2 separate regions of the Homo sapiens genome follow, and region 2 is linked to region 1. A link means that fine-mapping ties the variant in region 1 to the expression of a gene that starts in the linked region. Tissue or cell type: testis. Region 1 holds a variant in brackets; the other region holds the start of a gene. All regions are shown on one strand. Distances are between the middles of the regions.

Region 1 (7,970 bases):
AAGACAAGCCATGGATTTTCCAAGCCAGCACAAAGATACAGATTGCCGAAGATGTGAATTACTTTTACAGCTGTACTCCCTGATTAGCCTTTTTGTGAAAAATGTGCAGTAAATTACTATCCTAATCAAGGTAAATCAACGTTAGCACTACATGCCACCATCCCACCATCCCCTCCTCCCAATCACCTGGAAGTTCTGGCCACATCTCAATCTTACAATTCCCACAAGTTCATTCCAGCCTTTCAACAAATTACACTGAGGATTGACTGTCATTCATGCACAAAGTAAAGAGTCCAACTGAAGGACATGAGTGACAATACCCTTTTCATTACAGGCATGGCTTTCTGTTTCATTTTTTAGCAGATGGCTAACTTACTTCTCCATGCCTGGCTGGTACCATTAGTGTTACGGCATTTAATCACTGCATCAAGCAACCCACGGTAAGTGGTGTCTCATTTAACAGATGGGGAAACTGGGCCTCAGAGCAATGTCCCTCAGGGTCAATTGCCCAAGGTCAGTAAGTGGTCTTAGGACCGGTCTTGGCTGTGATCCTAAACCCCTGCAACCCCACACTGCCTCCAGGGGGGGAGTGCTGATGGAGCCAATTCCTTTTTCTTTGGTGAATCAGCCAAGCTACCTGCGCTGCAGACACACAAAATGACACAACTGGAAGGTAGTCCACTTTACCCACGGAAGGCATTTTAAGGATATACAGTCAAAAAGGATTGTAAAAATTCAATGGCCTCATGAGCACTTGGTTCAGAGTTTATTCACTGACGAAAGTTTTTCTTTTTCCTTTATATCAGAGAATACTTAAAATGACAAAACCATTCACTCGCAAGTTCTCAGAGCTCATCAAAACACAAACATTAAAAAAATGTTGGCTGGGTGCAGTCGCTCACACCTGTAATCCCAGCATTTGGGAGGCTGGGGGGGGGCGGGGGCAGACCACCTGAGGTCAGGAGTTCAAGACCAGCATGGCCAACCTAGTGAAACCCCAAATCTACTAAAAATATAAAAGTCAGCTGGGCGTGGTGGTATGTCCCTGTAATATCAGCTACTCAGGAGGCTGAGGGAGGAGAATTGCTTGAACCGGAAGTTGCAGTGAGCCAAGATCGCACCATTGCACTCCAGCCTGGGTGACAAGAGCAAAACTCCGTCTCAAAAAAAAAAAAAAAAAAAGTTATATGGCATGGCCTCCACTGGGACCAGGCTGTGCTAAGAGTTGCTACATCATCACTAGCAACTTCTTTTTTCTTTTTTCTTTTTTTTTTTTGAGTTTTGCTCTTGTTACCCAGGCTGGAATGCAATGGCGCCATCTTGGCTCACCGCAACCTCTGCCTCCCAGGTTCAAGAGATTCTCCTGCCTCAGTCTCCCAAGTAGCTGGGATTACAGGCATGTGCCACCACACCCAGCTAATTTCATATTTTTAGTAGAGACGGGGTTTCTCCATGTTGGTCAGGCTGGTCTTGAACTCCTGACCTTAGGTGATCTGCCCACTTCGGCCTCTCAAAGTGCTGGGATTACAGGCGTGAGCCACTGCACCTGGCTAATTTTGTATTTTTAGTAGAGACGGGGTTTCTCCATGTTGGTCAGACTGGTCTCAAACTCCTGACCTCAGGGGATCTGCCCGCTTTGGCCTCCCAAAGTGCTGGGATTACAGGCGTGAGCCACGGCACCTGGCTTCTAGCAACTTATTTACCTGATAACACGAAAACTTCAATTTAGATTTTTCTTTTTCCTATTTATCTGTCACCCAGGCTGGAGTGCAGTGGCACAATCATGGCTTATTGCAGCCTGTCTACCTCCCAGGTCCAAACAATCCTCCTACCTCAGCTTCCCAAGTAGGTGGGACCACGGGCATGTGCCACCACACCAAAGTTTTTTGTTTTTGTTTTTTGTAGAGATGGGGTCTCCCTATGTTGCCCAGGCTGGTCTCAAACTCCTGGACTCAAAATATCCTCCTGCCTCGGCCTCCCAAAGTGCTGGGATTACAGGCGTGAGCCATGGCACCTGACTTCTTTCTTATTTTTAAAGATTGCTTGTACTTGCCAAGAGATCCTGAGAGTCTATTCTTAAGTATATCAGTCGGGTAAAGCAGTGGCAGCTAAACACAGTTCTTACGCTTGTAAAAAGTTACACTAAAAATTATAAAGACGTGGCCAGGCGCAGTAGCTCACGCATGTAATCCCAGCACTTTGGGAGGCCAAGGCGGGTGGATCACCTGAGGTTGGGAGTTTGAGACCAACCTGACCAACATGGAGAAACCCCGTCTCTACTAAAAATACAAAATTATCCAGGTGTGGTGGTGCACACCTGTAATCCCAGCTACTCGAGAGGCTGAGGCAGGAGAATCACTTGAAGCCAGGAGGCAGAGGTTGCGGTGAGCCGAGATCACACCATTGCACTCTAGCCTGGGCAACAAGAGCAAAACTCTGTCTCAAAACAAAACAAAACAAAATATATATATATACACATATTATATATATGTATATACATATGTATATATGTGTATATATGTATATACGTATATATGTGTGTGTGTGTGTGTGTATATATATATATATATATATATATATATATATATATATATATATATATATGACCTCACAAATAACCCTTCCTTAGGCATTTAAAACACTATATGGTATTTACTTTTGTAGCACAGAAGGAAGAAGGGAGCCTGGCCATTCCTTCTGCTCTGGGTCATGGCTGAAGGTCTTCCTGAGGATACCTAACCATGGTTGAATGTGGTCTGCCAAAACATCATGCTTTAAGCCAAGCATATGAGACCACAGGTAAATCAGACCTAATAGAAAAATTCTAATAACTTTATTTTCAGGTATTGTCTCTTAAGGTTGATCACATGAAACGGGCAGAATCAGGTTTAAAAGTAGGCTGCATTATAATGGAAATAGAACTATTCAAAGTTGGGGTTATGACAGAGTAAAACTTTTTTTATGATGCTTCTTTTTTCTTTTGTAGAACCATGCTTAGATGAACTAACAGTGGCCCTGCCCTATACTTTTTTTTTTTTTTTTTTGGTACAATTTTATTTGGACGTTACTTTAAACTTCCAAAAAGTTGCAATAGTAAAAGAACTCTGATGCATCCCTTACCCAGACTCATCAATGGTTTACATTTTGCTCCATTTGCTTTTGCATCATCATCCTCCCTCCCTCTCCCTCTTTCTCTCTCATATGTATACACACTTCTGTGGGATCCATTTGAGAGTGTATTTTTTTACATTCTTTTACCTAACCACAGCTCAAAACATCAGTATTCTTGACTATTCTAAGGCAGATTTATTGTCTTGGTCTTAAAATGCTGTAGCAAACTTAATCATAAATGAATGTCAACTATGCATTAACCAATCCTGTGCTAAGTTTGGAAATAAATCAATAGGCATCCTATTTCTCCAGTGTCTCTCTATAATTTTGAATGTAAATAAACCTCATAATGAAGGAGAAAGAAAAGCAAAACAGTTTTCAGAGATGGGTTTGTTCAGGTTCCAAATAGTCTGACCATTAAGGAGGTGTGTGGAGGGCACAAAACCTTTTAACAGCTACCACCACCATCAAAGATGGCATTGGGAGGGGGTGGTCAAGCACAAGGAACTGCTGTTAGAACTTAATTCTCTAGCAGGTTCATGAGTTCTTTGCAGACACTATTTTGAAAACTAAAAGCCTACTATCAGAGTCAAGTAGAGAAATAAATGTCAAACAGAAAAGAAGGGTATGGTCACAAGGGAGGTGAGAAAGAAGCCCAAGGTCATGTAGAGAGAGCTGGGATACTCTTTTTTTTTTTTTTTAGAAAGGCAAGGAATATCATGGGGCTATTCCATGCAATAGAAAATGGAACAGTTCCATTTCCCTCCTTTGTCCTTTCTCTCGCCTCTTCCTTCAAAATAGTTAAATAGCTATTTCTCATCATTAAAAACAAAGACAAGCAGCTAACAGATGTAAGACTTCTCAATCATCATTGTCAAGAGAACATCTGACCCAAAGGATAAGGGCTATACTTAGGGAATGGAATCTGATGCTCTCAGCATTCAGTAAACTTGGTCCTGATGTCTTCAAAGCTTTGACAAGTCAACAAACATCTTGAGACCTGATTTTAAAAAATAGCCACTATTTGCCTTCCAAAGATGGTCTAAGGATGTTTTAAAACAGAAAAGAATTTCACGACCATAAAGAATTAAAGCTCCTATTGCAACGTACCAATTGGCATTGCTGCTTCCACTGGGACTAAACAGACTTTCTTGAAGCTAACCAGTGACAAATGGAATTGAAACAATATGTTAATAACAAAACCTGAGTTTCATCTTCTTTTTGAGCTTGCGAGAGCTCTAGCCTTCTGAACGGCAGACAATTTTGCCAAGTTATTGACCAACGTTTCCAGCTGCTT[C/T]GGTAGCAGCTTCTAACCAGTCCCCACATAAAGCCTCCAATACCATACACATAGCGTGTGTGCGTGCACACATTCGCACACAGCATGTGTAGTGGTCTATGGAGCATGACAGTTTTTCTAGGTAAAGCTTGTTCCCCAAATTCAAGTATGGCCTTATTCATATAACACAGTGATATAATGAGGGGTTCCTTTGTGAAATTTACTTTCTAGGTTCATTCACTGCATTCATTCATTCATCCTTATATTTAAAGTTGTTATTGAACGGTTCTGGGGAATGCCAAAAGGAGCCAACTGACATTTATTCCATTAAAAGCCAGAACTTAGAAAGAAATGTAGCCACCGGGTGCAGTGGCTCATGCCTGTAATCCCAGCACTATAGAGGCTAAGGTGGGTGGATTACTTGAGGTCAGGAGTTCGAGACCAGCCTGATCAACATGGTGAAACCCCATCTCTACTAAAAATACAAAATTAGCCGGGCATGGTGGCGCATGTCTGTAATCCCAGTACTTGGGAGGCTGAGGCAGGAGAATTGCTTGAACCTGGGAGGCAGAGGCTGCAGTGAACCAAGATCATGCCATTGCACTCCAGCCTGGGCAACAAGAGCGAAACTCCATCTTAAAAAAAAAAAAAATTCCATTATTCATCTCCTTGCTTTCTTTCGTGGTGGCACGTGTAAAAATTATATGTGATTTAGCCTTCGGCTGATCATTTGTTTTCATTTTGAGCACAGTAGAAAACACTGGCTTCGGGATTCAAGAAACAGAATGGCCCCTGACCCATACATTTATGATAACTAGCAAACTTTTTGTAGGTTTTTTTCTCCCTGCTCTCATAATGTTTTGATCCCTGCTACCTGTCTCTTATTAAGGTGCCTTTCTCTTTTGCCCACAGCCAACAACCTCCAAACCTTTCAAAATTTGTTGCTTCCGGTATTAGGCAACCATTCTTTGAAAAAGTTTGTCTAAAAGTACACAGAAGCTGGGCATATGCCTATACTCTCAGCTACCTGGTGGCTGAAGTGGGAGGATTGCTTGAGCCCAGGAGTTTGAGACCAGCCTGGGCAATACAGCAAGACCCTGTCCCAAAAAAAAATCTATGTAGTAATTATGGCATGGACAAGGGCTTAAGGACTTCTCCTATAAGCACAGTAACCACTGGTGAAATAAGATAGCATACAGTGTGAGAAGGTGTTATTCAAACTAAAGAGAAGGTTTATTATTTCGTTATGCTATTTTGGCCACTTGGGGATCATTTCATTTTCTACTGGTCTGTATGCTGCTTCCAGGATAGCTAAGGATTATTATCTTGATTGACCTTGACATATACATAAATGAGCCATAACTATGTTTCTGTAAAGAGCTTAATAAGTCAGCACAGTATATGAAGGTCCAGAGGCAGTGAAGAGTGGACGGTTTTGCTAGAAGACAGATTCTTCCAAAGAAGCAACAACAGATGGCAATGGTGTCTGAATCCTATTTTCAAGAATTACACATTTCAGGCAGAAAACTGTGGGCTTATCACTACAGGCAATGGGAAGCTGCAAAAGACATGAATGGAGACTGCCACAAGATACTTCTGGGTCTTAAAGAAGATTAATATGGTAGTGATGGTCAGGAAAAAGATAAAGAACCTGAGAGGGGCCAATTAGTACACTGTCCCTAAGAAAGCTTACACATAGTGACTTGGGGAGGGAAAGTAAAAGGAACTAATAGGAAAGGAAGAAATTGGGCCAAAGACAGTTTTGAGTATTAGGTGATTGACATACCAATACATAAGTACCTTAGGGCAACTCAGAAGGGGAGTGAGGATTTGAGGGATTTCAGGAGAATGAGTTTAATCAGATACATATTGAGGTTGTAACTGTATATCAGGTCTGGTATGATTCCTATTATTCATAATTTTCTTGAACCAAGTCACCAAATCAAAATCATGCAAATAGAAAACAGTAATTGTCAGGGCCTGCCATTGAAAATGAAGTATAAGGTCATATCCCTAATTACATTTTTTTCTCCAATGCAATCCCACTCTAGTTCCTATATGAAGACTACCATGGCATTGTAAGATCCCTATGAAAAAGTATTTCTTGTGTGAACATGCCCAGGGAAGTTAGAAATCCTCTGATCACCAAAAGCCAGAACAGATACTGATTTGTGAAGTCAGTTAGGCCAACATTCCCTAGGTGTCCCCTGCTGCTAAGTGCCATCCGTGGGCTACAAACTGCTTAACAGCTTCTTTGTTAAACTGCTTGTTAACAAGGCCTTAGTGCATGGAAGATGCAGATCACAGGTTCTCCATTCAAAAGCTACTCCAATTCTCCCAGACTACATATGCAGGTGAATTAAATTTAACTACAGACTAATTTAGCAGTACAGAAACATGTCACACATCCATTCTTTTCACAATACAAAATATACCACCCTTATGGATATACACATTTCCTTGTTTAGGATGTCCTTAACTTCAATCGAGATGTGAATTTTCCAGTAAAAGAGACACTAAACTGTCATTTCTTTAAAGGTTTCACACACTCAAGGGGCATTCAGTGCTTACTGTCTACTAAAGACAAAGTCACTGCCAACAAAGCCCAATTCAATTTCACTTATTTGAAAAATAAAAACATAATGAAGTTATCAGGAGATATTGTTTATGAAACATTCCTTTACTAAGTTTTCCATACGAGCAATTAGTGGCATTAGGCCATATGCCCTTTAGTATTTTCTGTATTTTCCAGGTAAACCTCCGTCCAGCATTTTCGAGGTAAACCTCCATCCAGCTTGTACATTTCCCAACAGCTGAGTGGGCTATCACACATCACCCAATGGTCAAGAAACTATCCATTTTTCCAAGAGGAAATGTGGAACTCTTTCAAAGCATTCTAATTTCATGCACAAGTACATTCCATGACAGTAAGAAACAAAAGGAGGAAACATGACGACAAAGCCTGGTCCTCCGCCAGCGCGGCGCTTCTAGGGTCAGATTATCCGCACACGAGTATGTAAAGACAAAATCCAAAATGCATGCCATGGAATGAGGGGCACCACACAAGGCGGTGCTCTAATGAGCCCATTATTTTCCATAATGGGGGATGCAGATATTTTCTCAAAATCGTGTTCTCCTCAGTCTTCTATTGATTTTTTGGATTTCTATTTTCAACAGTGGCCCGAGGAAACGGCAGCCAGACTTGACTCCAATGTACACACAGACTCAGGTTTCGCCCCGTCACCTGTTGGCTCCTGAACAACACTCCTCTTTGTGAAACTTACAGCACCCATTTGAAACAAGTTTCCAGAGAAAACACTTCAAGAAAGTGTTTGAGAAGTCACAAGACTCGAGTTGTAAAAACAAATTCCACACATAGCCTGGCTTATAAGGACACAGACTAACGGGAAAGGCCGAGCTTTTAAAAATGGGGCTGGAGGAAGCGAGAAGGAAAGGATGTCACCGTACTTTGGGAAAACTCAGCCGGCCAATTCTTGATGGGGCTGCCAGTGATGGCTGCAGGGGGTCCCCTGGGTCGTCCCCATCCCCGCCGCCGCAGCAGCAGAGACGCCTCAGAGCGGGC
Region 2 (7,970 bases), 110 kb after region 1:
GATATTAGAGAGCCCAAAATATAGGTATAGGCCATTAAGAGAGTTACTTAATTACTGGAAAATACTTTGTAAAGATTCTTGTTCCATTTCATGAGTATTATAGACAATCACTCATAATACTTAATTCTTTGTATTTTGCTTTCAAGTAATTATAAGAGATTTTAGAGAAATTATGATGCAACTTTTAAAACTTATAATTCAGCTTACTTTTTAAAAGCCTTAATCAAAGAAACTGCAAAATTTAACTTTTTTGGTCTTTTCAGAATTATCAAAAGAGAGAATATTAGGAACAACTAGACTTACCTACATCTGACTCTAAAGTTAAGAGTTCAGCTATTAACCCTATAGGAGATCTTTATTTCTCCCTAGCTAATATTAGATTTTATCTGGGGGACTCAAGCTGACTTATTACACCACCACACACCATGGACAAATAGTGCTTCCATGGACCTTGATTATAAAAACATAATAAGCTTTTTAAGCTTCACTGGTGTTACTGGCAGAACTGATTGAATCTGTCACTTTAGTAAAATATATCATTTTTCTTTTTAAAACCTATGAACCAACAGGCTCACTCGGTGATAACTCGCCAATTAGTACCAAATTAAAGATGGAAAAATTAATTTACTAAGCCCATTCAGTTGCATCAATATGTCTATCTCTATAAACTATCCAGTTTTTCCTTCCTTTTTCCCTCCCTCTCTCCATCCCTCCCTCTTTTCCTTCCTTCCTTCCTTTTGAGGCTTATTTATAAGAATGAATCATACTACATTAGCCATGACTTATTAAACTTGGAGATTTTCAAGTTCATCAGCAAGTGTGCAAACCCTTAACTGTGGGTAACATCCATTTATTTGTAGCACCTTTCGGTTTTAATATGTAGAGCACATGCATTGTTAACCTCTAAATCCTTTGTATAAACATTTCTGGAAGAGCTGGTAAAATATCTCCTTCTGTGTTTCCTGACTCGCCAGTTGATGGCATTTAGAAACCCTCTGGTACCAGCAGGTGCTGTATTTTGCTTTCTTCAGGCTCCAGCTGGGCTACAATGACAGATTCCTGTCCCAGGCCAAGCCTAGCCACCAAGGCTAGGACCACATTGGAGGCAAACTGAACCAGGCTCCACCAGACAGCAAGATGAATGGCTGCTGTTTAAGTTTAAAATCCCCTGGTGGGAGTAAATATTGTTCCAGAGAAAAGCCTTGACAAATACTGCGTCATCCTTACAGAACTGTCTTGATTAAAGCAGAATCTTTGGATTAAGTTGATGCTCAATTCAAAATGTATCTATCTTGCTGTCATGGGATTTTTTTTTGTTTTTTTTTTCCTTTCTAGAGTCTGAAAACAGACATAATGTTGGGGACGGTCAAACAAGGCTGCCGGCTCCCAAGGGGCTAGAGTCCACTCCTGATAATAGAAGGCGGCTGAACACTGACACTTCACTGAGGATAATGGAGACAGCAAAGGCTTAGTGGGAAAGGGCCAGTTGTCACCTAAGTGACAGGCAACAGCTGAGCTCACACATCTGGAGCCGGACTACGGCAAACATTAGCAACCCTCACCAGTCTACACCTTGGGCCTGTCTGAAAAGACAGATGGAAGTTCCCTCTACTCCTAAAGTACATTAAAAAATGTCTGATGGTGAACCACATCAATTATATAACATCAACTGCAGGCACAGCCTTCCAAAGTACTGATTAAGACGAGGCAGTAGACAACACTGTATGCATGAACAGATACAAGATACCATTTCAGTGATTTGTCATTCATAAAACTTATCCTAAAAGACACATATACATGCATCCATTTGATAGCACAAATGCATGTTAACTCTGCAGGAGAGGCAGATTTTTACATGTTTTTTTGGTTGTAGTTGTTGGTGCTTTTTTTTTTTCCTTTAGGCTGGTTCCCGTGGTGTGTTTGCCTTGTTCATGGTCTCAGTTCTGCCGCTGATACCCTTTTAAAAATCAGCAACCAAACGCGTTCGGCTTGTGATCCTGAACCCTCCTTAGGCAAGCTGGAACTAAGCGTGATGCAGCCGTCCTCCCTCTCTCCCAACCCCCAACCTCGTTCTTCAGCCTCCTGAAGACAATCTGTGAACAATTTTCCCAAAGTCCCAAGAATAACACAGCACTGCCAATAGTCACTGGCGATGCCGTTTGTTTTTCTTAGAGGGTAATGAAAATTTAACAGCTTTCTGCTGCATCCTGAGTCCCGCTCCTAATAACTATTAACATGCCTAGTTTCTTCAACTTTTTCTACCTCAAGAGAGGAAGACGCTCCCATTTTTTCCCTATATCTGTGCTACATTCAGCAAACACCATCGCGGGGCAGGGGGTTGGGGAGAGTGGTGGGAGTTGATTCGCCTCTGCCAAAAAGCCACCAGCCCCTTTCCCCAGCGCTAGAGGAGAGAATCGGTACCCTCCCTCCGGACGCCAGTAGGTGACAGGCGATCCTAAGCGGCGGGAACACGCCAACGCACCCTCGCCTCCCGGCGCCCCGCATCGCCTCGACCCTCGGGCTACAGAACCTGTTTCCACGCCGGAGAAAACCAAGGGAAGAGTTGGTTGTGATGCAGCAAACAGGAGCCATGCGGAGAGCCTCTGCGGAGCCCTGGCGATGCTGCAGCCAATATCTGCTTTCCCTGTCTACACAGCCCAACAAACCGATTATGACCTTCTCCCTGATCTTCTGCGACACCGACCCAGTCTGGGTGTCACAGACTCCGGCGGTGCCAGCGAAGGTGCCCGGCCCTACCCCTGCGGCGCTCGCCCCCCACCACCGCGCCGCAGCCCCCTCTGCGGAATCCGCCGGGATCCAGGCTGCCACTCACCTCGCGCGAGGGAGACGCAACTCGGCTGCACTGTCCTCGGCGCCGCTGCGGGGCTGCTGGGCTGCGGGGCTGCGGGGCTGAGGAGCTGCGGTCCGCGGCGTCAGGGGTGGGCGAGGGTGAGCAGCGCACGAACCATCCAGAGCCCAGAAAGTCTCCGTGCCGACCGCGGCGCGTCTCGGGGAAGTCAGCGCAGGCTGCGCGAGGCTGGCATGTTCCGGGCGCGCTGTCGGGCGGCGGCGGCCGCGGGAGACGGCGCTGGCAGCTGGGCTGCAGGCGGAGTGCGCTCGGGCTCCGGAGCCGCGCGCTGCGGCGCCGCCGCGCACCCCGCCCTCGGCCGCGGGGCCCGGCGCGAGCGAAAACGCGGAGCGCGGACGCCGCCGCGGGATCGAGGCCGCTGGGCGCGCGCCCACGCGTACCCCGGCTCGGCCCTGAAAGCGAGGTCGGGCCCGGCTCGGGCCGCGCCCGGGGGCAGGGCTGCGAGCAGGCCTGGGACCGGCTCCACGCGCAGCCAGTGGGGCAGAGCAGCAGGCGGATTATGCGCAGGGAGAAAAAAGTTCACCAACCGCGGTCCAGAGTCGCAAGTGCGGCTCGCTCGGAGCCTCTGCCCCGCCCCCGATTATAAGCCTTTTTTTTTTTTTTTTTTTAACCAACAATCCCGATGGACTGAAACACAGGAAGAGTGAAGGGACGGGGTGGGGGGTGGGGGAGAGACAAACCCAATTTCCTCTGATCAAACGATTTGGGTAGGGGTGCCTATTTGAGTTCCTTCTCCTTCGGGGGGTGTGTGAAGGGGGCAGTTAATTAAACACTTAGATTCCTTCCGGCGCGCCTTGCCGAGCTGGGGACCCGTTTGGACTCGATCCTGTCTCGTGTAATCCCACAGGCTGGTCTGAGTCTCTGCCCCGGAACCGGAGGAGTGATCTTTCAGAGCAAGAAGCCAAAGTTCAGCCTCTAGTCCGTTCCCTTCCCCGCCTCGACGGCCCTGGTCGTCTCCATGAAAACTCAGTGTGGGGGATCGTGCCCGCGAAAACCTCAGCCCACCGCAATGTCCAGAGCCTGACCCAAGTGAACGTGGCGCACTTAAAAGCGGGTTCAAAGCATTGATCCGAACACGGTGACAATTTTTCACTGGCCAAACTACTCTCCACATTTTCAGTCTGCTCAATTCCCAGAGCTGGGCTCTCAGGCGCACTCACCCACGTTGAACTGGGGCTCAGCCTGTTTGAAAGTTCTGCCCTGACATTTGTGTCACACTAAACCTTAGAACCCCCCACCCTCTCCAGTTCCGGATCGGTGGAGTCTCACCGTGTGGGTACTATTTCCCTGGACTGCAGAGGGCAGACACAGGCGGCAGCTGTTAACCCGAACTTGACAGGTGCCTCTGCAAAGCCAGGGCTTCCTTGACCTCTCCATCCTCTCCACAACGCTCTAGGATACTGTATCATCTTCCAGGAAGATGAGGATGTGTGTGGGGGGAGTGTGGAGGGAGGTGTTGACTGATGCAATTTTTATCCTTTTAAGAAAAATCAAAACTGCCAGTCTCAGAATTTCTCAGAACATCAAGTCTTTTCGATTTTCGTTGGGAATAAAGCAAAGGAATACTCAGCAAAAATGGAGCCGATGAAAAGAGAATGCAAGGAAATAAAGGCAAATGGAGGAGGAAACTGTCTAAATCCAGGAAAATGTATGGCTTCAGCACTGTGCTCTATAATTCTGACTCAGATCTCCCCACGCTGTAGATACTTTCTCCTGTCTAGATGCCCAGGCAGAGTTCCTGAGCTCAGATCACTCAGGAAACAAGGCTGTTGCTTTTGAAATAATTCCACTTGCTAGCGTTGTTTTTTTTTTTTTTTTTTTTTTTTTTTTTTTTTGAGACGGAGTTTCGCTCTTGTCACACAGGCTGGAGTGCAGTGGCGCGATCTCCGCTCACTGCAACCTCCGCCCCGCCCCCGTGTTGAAGCGATTCTCCTTCCTCAACCTCCCGAGTAGCTGGGATTACAGGCACCTGCCACCGCGCCCAGGTAATTTTTGTATTTTTAGTAGAGACAGTTTCCCCATGTTGGCCAGGCTGGTCTCGAACTCCTGACCTCAGGTGACGAGAATCTGGGAAAGAACAAACCAGGTTTTCTTGCCCCTCAGCATTTTATTGGAATTGGCCTTTGAAGTTGTGTCTGTTTATCTTGCTGGGGTTACAAATGCTTCTATTAAGCTATCAACTTTTAGGTTCTATCTAACCTCCAGAACTGCCAAAGAAAATTTCACTACCTCCATAGGTGAAATAAATCTTATTGCTGTACAGTGACTTCACAAAGGTTTTGTTTGTTGAGCATCTATTATGTGGAGCAGACACCCTGAGCACTGTGGATGATACATGGTCATTCCCTCTGGAGGATTACTGCCTCTTTGGACTGTGTGCTGGGCAGCATCTTTTGGATCCATTGCAAAGGTGAATACTTGGCCTTCAACCAGGACTCATAAAATTACTCCGGCCAGTGCATGTGATGGTCTGAGGTCACAACAGTCTGATTTCAAATTTCAGCCCCACCGCTTACCAAATGTAGCCTGGGGTAATGTAGTTAACCTCTCTCAGGCTTAGTTTCTCATTGGTAAGTGAGGGTAATAATATTCAGCTCAGGGAACTGTTGGGAAGATTGAATGCTGCAGAAATCACTGGAACGTTTGTATTTCATTTTATAAGGCATCTTCTCACAAGCACCCTTCTCTATAGCAGCCTCCATGCAAAATCCCACAAGTAGAAAAGAACTGTTTTTTATTTAATCTGAAAAAGCATTCTTCATTGTGAACTCTTGAATTGCTCCTGGGTCTCTTTTTCTTTTTTCTGAGTCTGTTTTATTAATGGTGTTATTTTCTTTGTCTTTACAAAGCAACATGATGTCATACCTTTTGTAAGAAATCAATTCACTTAGAGAATGTCTACTTTTCTTTTTTGAGACACCCTTGATCTGTCACCCAGTCTGGAGTGCAGTGGTGATCACAGCTCACTTCAGCCTCAAACTCCTGGGCTCAAGTGATCCTCCCGCCACAGCCTCCCGAGTAGCTGAGACTACAGGCATGCACTACCGTACGTGGCTAAGTAACTTCTTTTTATTTTATTTATTTATTTGAGATGGAGTCTTGCTCTTCGCCCAGGCTGGCGTGAAATGGCACGATCTTGGCTCACTGCAAACTCTGACCCCAGGGTTCATGCAATTCTCCTGCCTCAGCTGCCCGAGTAGCTGGGACTACAGGTGCATGCCATCACACCCAGCTAATTTTTGTATTTTTAGTACAGACGGGGTTTCGCCATGTTGGCCAGGCTGGTCTTGAACTCCTGACCTCAAGTGATCCACCTGCCTTGGCCTCCCAAAGTGCTAGGATTACAGGCATGAGCCACTGAGCCTGGCTGCAACTTCTTTTTAAAAATAACATTTTTGTGTGTTGAATTGTGTCCTCCAAAACTTCATGTTGAAGTCCTTAACTGCAGTACCTCAGAATGCAACCTTATTTGGAGATAAGGTCTTTGCAGAGTTAATCAAGTTAACATGAGGTCACTAAGTTCAGTCCTAATCCAATATGATTTTTATCCTTATAAAAAGGGGAAACTTGGGCAGGCATAGTGACTCATGCCTATACTCCCAGCACTTTGGGAGGCTGAGGTGGGAGAGTCACTTAAGCCCAGGAGTTTGAGATGAGCCTGGGCAACAGGCAACACAGGGAGATCTTGTCTCTCCAAAAAAAAAAAAAAGGAAAAAAAAGAAAGAAATCGCCAGGTGTGGTGGCATGGGCATGCACCTATGTTCCCAGCTACTGGAAGGCTGAGGCAGGACAATCACTTGAGCCCAGGACATCGAGGCTGTGGTGAGCCATTATGGTGTCCCTGCACTCTAGCCTGGGCAATACAGCGAGACCGTGTCTCAAAAAGAGGTGGGGAGCAGAATTTGGAGACAGACATGCACACAGGGAGAATACCACATAGAGGTGAAGGCGGAGATCAGGGTGATGCTTCTGCAAGCCAAGGAACATCATTGATTGCCAGCAAATTACCAGAAGCCAGGAGAGAGGCACGGAACAGATTCTTCCTCACAGCTCTCAGAAGGAACCAACCCTGCCCACACCTTGATCTCAGACTTTCCACCTGCACAACTGTAAGACAATAAATTTCAGTTGTTTCAGCCACCCAGTTTGTGGTACTTTATTATGGTAGCCCCAGCAAACTAGTACAATACCCAACCATGTCATGCTCTGAATGTGTCGTGGCTCACTAAAGAGGATTTTCATATTTAGATGAAGAATTCGTGACAGTGTGGGCCACAAGCTTGAGAATTAAGCAACAATCAGACAGTGTTGGCAGTCTTTGTTTGATTCCCAGGTCTGTTTGATTCCTAGGATTTGCTTGGCGTCTGCTCCCTGTGTCTCTTGTTCATCCACATCTGGGACTCCTTTCTTTGACTTGCAGACCCAGCCCCAACCAGTGTTTGCAGGGTGAATCAGTGTTGACCCTATAATGATCTGCAAGGGCCTGGCTGTCAGGCGTGCTCCCGGGCTGCAAATCCTACTTATGCTCTTCAGGGCTTTCAGGATAGAGTGCACACTCCTTGGATTAGTTCTAAAGGTCTTTTATATTTGCACTATGCCTATCTCTCTGGCTTATTTTTTTTTTACTACTCTCCACCCTTGTTTGCTCTAACCATATTAAGCTATTTACAGTTCTTCAAAAGCATCAGGCTGTTTTATGACTCTGTGCTTTGAAAATACCTAGAATGTTACCCACTGAAAATTGCCCTCTTTATTAGCTAACTCCTGCTTATCCTTTACCATTCGACTCAAACATCACCTTCTTGGTAGTCCATTGATGTGCATTATTTATTGTTTTGTCTGCCAAGCTTGTTTCTCCTTCTTTGTAATGCCCCCAATTTCCCTTGAGGAACCATCATCTCCCACTGTCAGTGCACATGGATTAGTTGGAGACTCATCCCTGGTTTTGGTGTTAGGATCAGGTGACCCAGACCTGGAAAATTAGAGCACTGGATCCCCTGACCAAAAGATTAGTTCAGGGATGGGCATGTGACCCAGGTCAAGTATTGGGATTTGTGCATGAGCTTTTAGTGATGCCATAACAACAACTTCAACAAGTATT

What was found. PIP is the estimated chance that this variant, and not a neighbour inherited with it, causes the effect.
Region 2: PRICKLE1 starts here. The variant in region 1 is fine-mapped to the expression of PRICKLE1 in testis (GTEx, PIP 0.91).

Annotation. Positions count from the first base shown.
Region 1 is chr12:42,474,930-42,482,899 of GRCh38, forward strand. The region is part of intron 1 of PRICKLE1 (prickle planar cell polarity protein 1); the gene reads right to left. Among named protein-coding and RNA genes, the nearest start is that of PRICKLE1, 110 kb to the right of the region's middle. RefSeq lists enhancers at 412-481, 4,249-4,338, 6,348-6,959 and a silencer at 5,834-6,034. The variant C/T (reference allele first, on the strand shown) is at 4,409.
Region 2 is chr12:42,586,632-42,594,601 of GRCh38, forward strand. It overlaps PRICKLE1 (prickle planar cell polarity protein 1), which reads right to left and starts at 3,115. Exons shown (of 8, transcript NM_153026.3): 1 at 2,834-3,115. RefSeq lists a silencer at 3,119-3,368 and an enhancer at 3,838-4,395.